Homo sapiens: one gene and its partner. The protein of the gene in region 1 purifies or fractionates together with the protein of each later gene. This does not show direct contact. Each region holds a gene or a part of one and is shown on either strand. Other genes may lie near its edges.

Region 1 (3,750 bases):
TTGTTTCCAGCACAGAATGATGCCAGGATGGCAGCCACCATCCCCTACTCTAGGTAACTGTTCAGAGGGACAGGCACAGCAATGGGCAGAGCTAAGACACCTGGGAGACGTGGCCAGGCCACACATGGCTGGAGGGGAAGTGCAAGGCAGCAGGCAGAAGCAGAGAGCAGGAGGTGATGAGGAAGGAGCAAGATGTCTCACGGGAGGTCAAGGCGGGAGAGAGGGTACCGAGGGAGCTGCCAATGTCACCTACTGCAAAGAAGTCCAGCCAGGTGAGTTGCAGAAAGCTGATGGCATCACCCTCTGCCCAGTTTATCAGCAGGGCTGGCCAAGTTCTTGGGCATGGTTTCAGATGGTGGCACTCCCCATTACATAGCTCTCTGTGTTTGTGTGAATTTTGTTCTTTCATTCTCCTTTTTTTTTATCTGGGCCCCTGGCCTGGAGGCTTCCCGTGGATGCAGCTCCCTGCCACTGTCCCAGAGGCCTCTCCCAGGAGACAGGATGTACCTTGGCCCAGGGTGCAGGCTCAGGAGCCAGATACTCATGGTTGGAATTGGCTGACCCAGCGTGAACTTCCTTGCACTTGCATTCTTCTTAACTGTAAAATGGGGACAATGTCCAGGCGCGGTGGCTTATGCCTGTAATCCCAGCACTTTGGGCCAAGGTGGGCAGTTCACTTGAGGTCAGGAGTTTGAGACCAGCCTGGCCAACATGACGCAACCCATCTCTACTAAAAATACAAAAATTAGCTGGGTGTGGTGGCACACGCCTGTAATCCCAGCTTCTTGGGAGGCTGAGGCAGGAGAATCACTTGAACCTGGGAGGTGGAGGTTGCAGTGAGCTGAGATCACGCCATTGCATTCCAGCCAAGTGTGAAACTCCGTCTCAGAAAAAACAAAAAACAAAAACCAACAAAAAAACCTGTCTCTACTAAAAATATAAAAATTAGTCGGGTGTGGTGGTGGGCACCTATAATCCCAGCTACTGAGGCAAGAGAATCGCTTGAACCTGGGAGGCGGAGGTTGCAGTGAGCCGAAATCACGCCACTGCACTCTAGTCTGGGCGAAAGAGCAAGACTCCATCTCAAAAAAAAAAAAAAAAAAATGGCGACAATGATAGCAGCCACCTCTCAGGGTTGCTGTGACGCTGAGAGCAGTGCCAGGCAGAGTGCAGCTGCTCTCACAGTCATCACTCCTTCCTGCAGTCACTCGTCCTCCAGCCCCGCTCTTATTTCCTCTCTCACCACCTCCTTTGCTCTCACCGCCTTTCCCTCTTTTCCTGTCCCCAGTCAGTTTTGTAGCCTCTGGCATACCATCCCACCACCTTTGCCACTCGTGGGGGTCTCCCTTATACTGGCTGTGCTAGGTGCTTTCATGTGCGTGTTCTCTGAAAACCTTCACCACCCTTATGTAGATATCATCAGCCCCATTTTACAAAGGAGGCATCAGTCGCTCACCCAGTGACAGCTGGGAGATGAAACCAGGTCTCCTTGGCTCAGAACCTGTTCACTCTCACTCTTATACTAGTCACAGGCAGATGCCCCTTTTCTGTGAATCAGGGACTGGCCGTGGGGAGGCCTGCTTATGGGGTGCGTTGGGGCTGTCTGTAGGGAATGCCGTCTCCCTCCCTCCCTTGTATTTCCGCTGGCTTCCTCTGGCATCACATTCCCAGGAGATTTCAGGTCAGAGAGGAAATGCCTCTGTGGATGTACTGGCCATGCATTGCTCTGGCCCCGGCACTGCATGAGGAAGTGGCTGCCAGGTGTCCTCCAGACCCCTCCCAGGAAGGGGCCTCATTCGGTTTCTTGGGAACTGCCTGTCTTTTGTTGTGAATGGACCACATTGTGACCGGCCTGTGGGTCTTGTCAGGGGTTTGGGGCCCTCTGAGCTGAAATGCTTCCTGTGGGTAGAGAGTTGCAGGAGACCTCGAGGCCCAGCTGCCCTCTCCCCCGGTCCATCCCAGCTGAGAGGCGAGGATGCAATGCAGTGTGTTCAGCCCTCCAGGCTCAAGGTGTGAGGTTGTGTGGACCATAAGGCAGTCCCCGTGCCTCTAGCCTTCGGTGATGCTACCTGTCCAGCACTTCTGGGAGTGGAAGGAGGACCATGGATGGCTGCCTGGTAGTGTCGGTTCCCTGGCCTCCCCATCCCACCTCGTGTCCATGGCTCCTTCTCCTACATCAGTGAGCTCGGAGACCATTCTGACTGTGAGGAGGAAGGGGCAGTAGTATGTCCTCAGCCACTCCCCTCTCTGGTTTCCTAGCAGGTCTCTCCCCCAGATGTAGGGCAGAGTTCACTGTCCTGCATGAGTTCATGTTTGCAAAGGGCCCTGAGAGCCGGGGGAAGTAGAGGAGAGCTGGGGGTACTGGGGTTTGAGGCCTGTGAGCTCAGGGGCCTTCTCAGCCCAACCTCCTGCAGCCTCCTAACCTCAGACAGGCCTCCAGGACCATCTCTGTAAAGTAATGTCCTTGGGTCAACACAGGCCTGGGAAAGGTCCTCTGCAGACTGTTGACAGCAGCTGATCCAAGGGTGACACAAGGGCTGGGAGCCCTGGGTAGCCCTGAAAGGTCTTGGTGAGGTCACTGTCTCTGTGTCTCTACATAGCTTTCGTTTCTGCTTTGCCATGCGGGGTCTGTGTCAGCAGAGACTGCTGATAAACCGGCATCTGCAGCGGCTCCAGGCGGGCAGAGGTGCTGAGCCCACTGCTGATGAGAATCCCAGTGCGGCGGGAAACGTGCACACATGAGCTGCTAGAGGCAAAGGCTCTCACTGCTCTGGTGGGTAGCTGGCCCCTCCACAGAAGGAAACCGTGGTGCCCTCAGCCTCCTACCTCTCTTTGCCCCATAGTCCTGAATAGAGTGAAATAGGATCCATGGAGGCAGCTCTTCCCCTGAGTCCTGTGAGCGGTGGAGGGGGTCACTGCTATAGAGGGCAGACACAGCCTGGGTTTGGAGGCCTCCGCAGAGCATGTGCACTATGCTGACCAGGAAGAGCCTGGCCCCTTCCAAGCTGCAGAGACCCTTGTGATGACGCATGGCTGAGTGCCAGCTGGAGTGGGAAGGGGGAAGTCCCTTCTGGACCCCTAAGAACAGATGCTTGGGGACAGGGCAGCCCGGATGTAGATCCTCTGAGCGTGGCGGCCTTTTATGGCTTGGTTCTGTCTCCTGGAGAGGCCAGGGAATGCCCTGAGCTCAGTTTGGGGTATCTCTCAAGGGGTGATGAGTGGATTTGTGAACCATCTCTCTCCCCCTCCTTTCAGTGGGTGTATAACATTCTCGACAAGAAGGCTGAAGCGGACCGGATTGTTTTCGAGAACCCAGATCCCTCTGATGGTTTTGTCCTCATCCCTGACCTCAAGTGGAACCAACAGCAGGTAAAGGTTTCTGGCTGGAATGTCCTGATCTCTGGCCACCCTGCTGTAAGTGCTGGTCCTTCTGACTGCCCTCTTTCTCACGCTGGCCTGTCTCTAAGCAGATTATAATTAACCAACAAGGGTTGGCCTGAGCTCTCTGTGGGGACTGGGTGGATACCTGTCATACATAAGTGCTTTTGCTTTAATGGGTCAGCTTAAAGCCCTTTCTGGCTGTCCTCCCACCCAAGAGGTAAAATGGGGTGATGTTTGTGCCCATGACTACATAGGCCATTCCTTACCAGCCAAGTGGTCTGGGCAGCCACCTGTGCTTCCACCCGCATCTGGAGCCCTCGGGTGGGGTGTTTCCATTTTCTCCATTCCCCTTGACACCAGCAGATCCAG
Region 2 (3,750 bases), on another chromosome or scaffold:
TATATTCGGAAGAACACAGATAGCGTGGTGATCTTCTCTGGAGAAGGATCAGATGAACTTACGCAGGGTTACATATATTTTCACAAGGTAACCACTCTGAAGTGGAGGGATATTCATGCTATATTAAGAAAAGTATGAATTGTTTGACTATTTTCTATCATCTTTCAGTATGACAGTGATATTTTTGAGTATCTTGTGAGGTTACAAAAGGGAATCTGATAGTGTTTGCTTTCTATCTCTTGGGGAAGAAAGAAATTTTAATGTGTCAGATAATTTTTATTCTTTAAAACTAGTTACAGCTGGGTATGAGGGCTCATGCTCATACCCCCAGCTGCTGAGGAGGCTGAGGTGGGAGGATCACCTGAACCCAGGAGATTGAGGCTGCAGTGAGCTGTGATTGCACCACTGCACTCCTGCCTGGTTGACAGAGTAAGACCCCGTCTCTTAAAAAAAAAAAAAAAAAAGTTAAAAATAAATAAATAAAACTACTTAAGCTTGAGAATCCCCTTTCTGCCATTTCTTAGCATCCTGTGGAATTATGACTGTTGCCCATTGTGTTCATTTTATTCTAATATTAGCAGTTTGGTAGGAAGGAAGGCATGTTTTGTGAAGCATTGCTTACCTCTGTTCAGTTATTTACTCCCTTCCCTAAATTTGTTTAACTTTTTGTCTTATCCACCTTTAGGATTGGAGAGGGAGAAAGAAAAACTGCTTTGTGTGCCAAAAGCAAAACTCTTGGTGTTTTTGTTTGTGAAATAGGCTCCTTCTCCTGAAAAAGCCGAGGAGGAGAGTGAGAGGCTTCTGAGGGAACTCTATTTGTTTGATGTTCTCCGCGCAGATCGAACTACTGCTGCCCATGGGTAATATTTTTAGAGGCTATTGTAAAACAAAAACAAAAAAACACCAAAAACAAAACAAAACAAAAAGCTCAATACCCTGAGAAAATAAAAATCAATAGCTGATTGGCTATATGTTACATATAGTTGGCTATATGTTACAAAGTGTGACTTTTATAGAGAAAATGAAGCTGTTTCTTAACTTTGTCCCAAAAGGATTAGGCCACATTTCAAAGTGGTGTTGTGGTATATGGAGAGAAGTCTTCTTCCATAGGTTGTTTGAGGTGGAGTTTTCACCTTTAAAGGGTAACAACATTCTGCTCACATCTGAACAACCAAGATGGAAGAGGCAAGGCTGCTACAGCAGCTACCGTTAAGTGTTTTAAAGAGAAGTAAAGATCGTAAACATCATGTGACAAGTAGTGAGTGCCCACCATGCCCATGTGGTGCTGTAGTGACCCTGAGGGAATAGAGTAGTGAAGATACAAGGGGTTTGATTACATTATAAAGAACCAGGTTTCTTTGGTTATCATTTCTAGTTGTCTAAAGTTATGTTGAAGAACTGAAGACTTTTACTGTACAGGATAAACAACTGACATTAAATGTCTTAGTTGCCTCTGCTGAATCACACCTAGATAAGGATATAATTAAATATGGGTTTGAGGAATGAACTGAATCTGGTCATTATCCTCTCTGCTTGTCCTAACTAGAGTCACTAGGCTTCAGGAAACCGGTGATTTGGAATTTGATGAAATATAGTGGGACACTGGTTTATATCGCATATTGTATGTGAATTTTTAATCAGTGGCAAAAAAATACTGTATCGTCATCACAATTGTTAGAAGAGATGGTCTCACCTAGTAAACACTGAGTTAGGTCTAGGCAAGGTATTTTCTTAATGATTGGGTCACTCATGTTTTGTAACTTTTTCTGCTTTTTGAAATATGCATTTAACTATTCCTAGAAGGGAAAGTAAAAGTAATAGTCTCAGTTAGTTTTACTCCCTAGATGACATGATATATGTATTATTTTAAATGAAGATTTATTTTTTGTATCTATTCATTAGTGTAGGGCAGTCATTAGGAGGCTTGTATGTGACTGTATGACCTTAACATTTCTTAAGATCTGGTTGAATTGATGGGAAACTGAATCAGAACCTAACCTGGCAGGCACTAAATACCCATTTTAATTTAGATTTTCTTCTTTTCTCCTTTAAGTCTTGAACTGAGAGTCCCATTTCTAGATCATCGATTTTCTTCCTATTACTTGTCTCTGCCACCAGAAATGAGAATTCCAAAGGTAGGTAAATCAACTCAAGGTAAAACTGTCCATTGCCATCAGATTATATTTGTAATTTTTACCTGATGCTCCTTTTTTTGTCACGTCAGAATGGGATAGAAAAACATCTCCTGAGAGAGACGTTTGAGGATTCCAATCTGATACCCAAAGAGATTCTCTGGCGACCAAAAGAAGCCTTCAGTGATGGAATAACTTCAGTTAAGAATTCCTGGTTTAAGATTTTACAGGAATACGTTGAACATCAGGTATAATGTCTTTAAAAACATTTTCAGGAATAAGACAGTTTGGATGCAGAGCTGTCATTGCTGTTCATTTTGTATTTAGTTTGAATGATACATGTATTTAGTTTGAATGATACATGTATTTAGTTTGAATGATACATACATCAGATATCTCTCTGATAGGATGTCCCTATCAGAGAGATTCAGAGTCTCTGTAAACAATTATCTCTTTTGTAAGAATTACGTAAGAATTAAGTAGCATGAAGGATTATAAAGTAGCATCTAGAATCGAGAGAGAGAGGAGACTTACTACTAATCATCACTGATTTTCATTTATCAGATTTTTGGGCACCTGCTGGGTGCCAGATCTTGTTAGGCACAAATGACTAAAACAGAGCCACCAAGTATTAAAAATATGCATATGAGTGTTCTTTAAAAGGCACTGCAGCTATCCATATTATGAATACTTTAGCATTTTCTAAGTGATGGGTGATTCAAAGGGTCTCATACAAGTTACAGTCACGTCTTAACATTTTCTGTTTCGTGAAATGAGACTAAACACAAGTATTTCCTGCCATTTTAAGCCATTTTGCTCTTATATGCTTATTCTTACAGGTTGATGATGCAATGATGGCAAATGCAGCCCAGAAATTTCCCTTCAATACTCCTAAAACCAAAGAAGGATATTACTACCGTCAAGTCTTTGAACGCCATTACCCAGGCCGGGCTGACTGGCTGAGCCATTACTGGATGCCCAAGTGGATCAATGCCACTGACCCTTCTGCCCGCACGCTGACCCACTACAAGTCAGCTGTCAAAGCTTAGGTGGTCTTTATGCTGTAATGTGAAAGCAAATATTTCTTCGTGTTGGATGGGGACTGTGGGTAGATAGGGGAACAATGAGAGTCAACTCAGGCTAACTTGGGTGTGAAAAAAATAAAAGTCCTAAATCTAAACCATTGCTGTAGTCATTTATGTTCATGCAGTCTCTTCATAAGAGGTAACTAGAACTGTTTTGCTGTATCACAGTAAAGTGGAGGGTAAGCTAGGAAAAGGGAAAATGATCAGATGTCTGCAAGAACTCACAGCCCTCTCCTGGCAGAGCTGCTTTAGATGACATTTGCATCTTGTGCCCGTGTGGCTTCCTTCCAGTCCTTGCCTCATCTTAGGGACGTCATCAAAGGACTACACTATTTTTGTTCTGCCTACATTCCTAACAGCTGCCTAGGCAGACTCAGACTTGAATCTTCTATAGGAGTTCATCACAGCTCTATTTTGCAAGATAGTAGTTCATTTTTTTCTCTTTTATGTTGAGCCAAAGCCACTTCTGGAGACTTGTCCTAGAGCAGGGGTCAGGCTTTTTTTGAATTTTTAATTTGTTTTTAATAAAGAGC

Evidence for each region. The genes of interacting proteins can lie anywhere in the genome.
Region 2: the proteins of DCPS (region 1) and ASNS fractionate together in Homo sapiens (co-fractionation; 2 studies listed by BioGRID). This does not show direct contact.

Annotation. Positions count from the first base shown.
Region 1 is NC_000011.10:126,335,031-126,338,780, forward strand, and holds part of DCPS (m7GpppX diphosphatase), read left to right. Parts: intron 1-3,255; coding exon 3,256-3,369; intron 3,370-3,750. UniProt on the Homo sapiens protein: Decapping scavenger enzyme that catalyzes the cleavage of a residual cap structure following the degradation of mRNAs by the 3'->5' exosome-mediated mRNA decay pathway.
Region 2 is NC_000007.14:97,851,690-97,855,439, reverse strand, and holds part of ASNS (asparagine synthetase [glutamine-hydrolyzing]), read left to right. Parts: coding exon 1-87; intron 88-685; exon of another isoform or gene 686-759; coding exon 760-860; intron 861-2,053; coding exon 2,054-2,135; intron 2,136-2,224; coding exon 2,225-2,380; intron 2,381-2,971; coding exon 2,972-3,181; 3' UTR 3,182-3,750.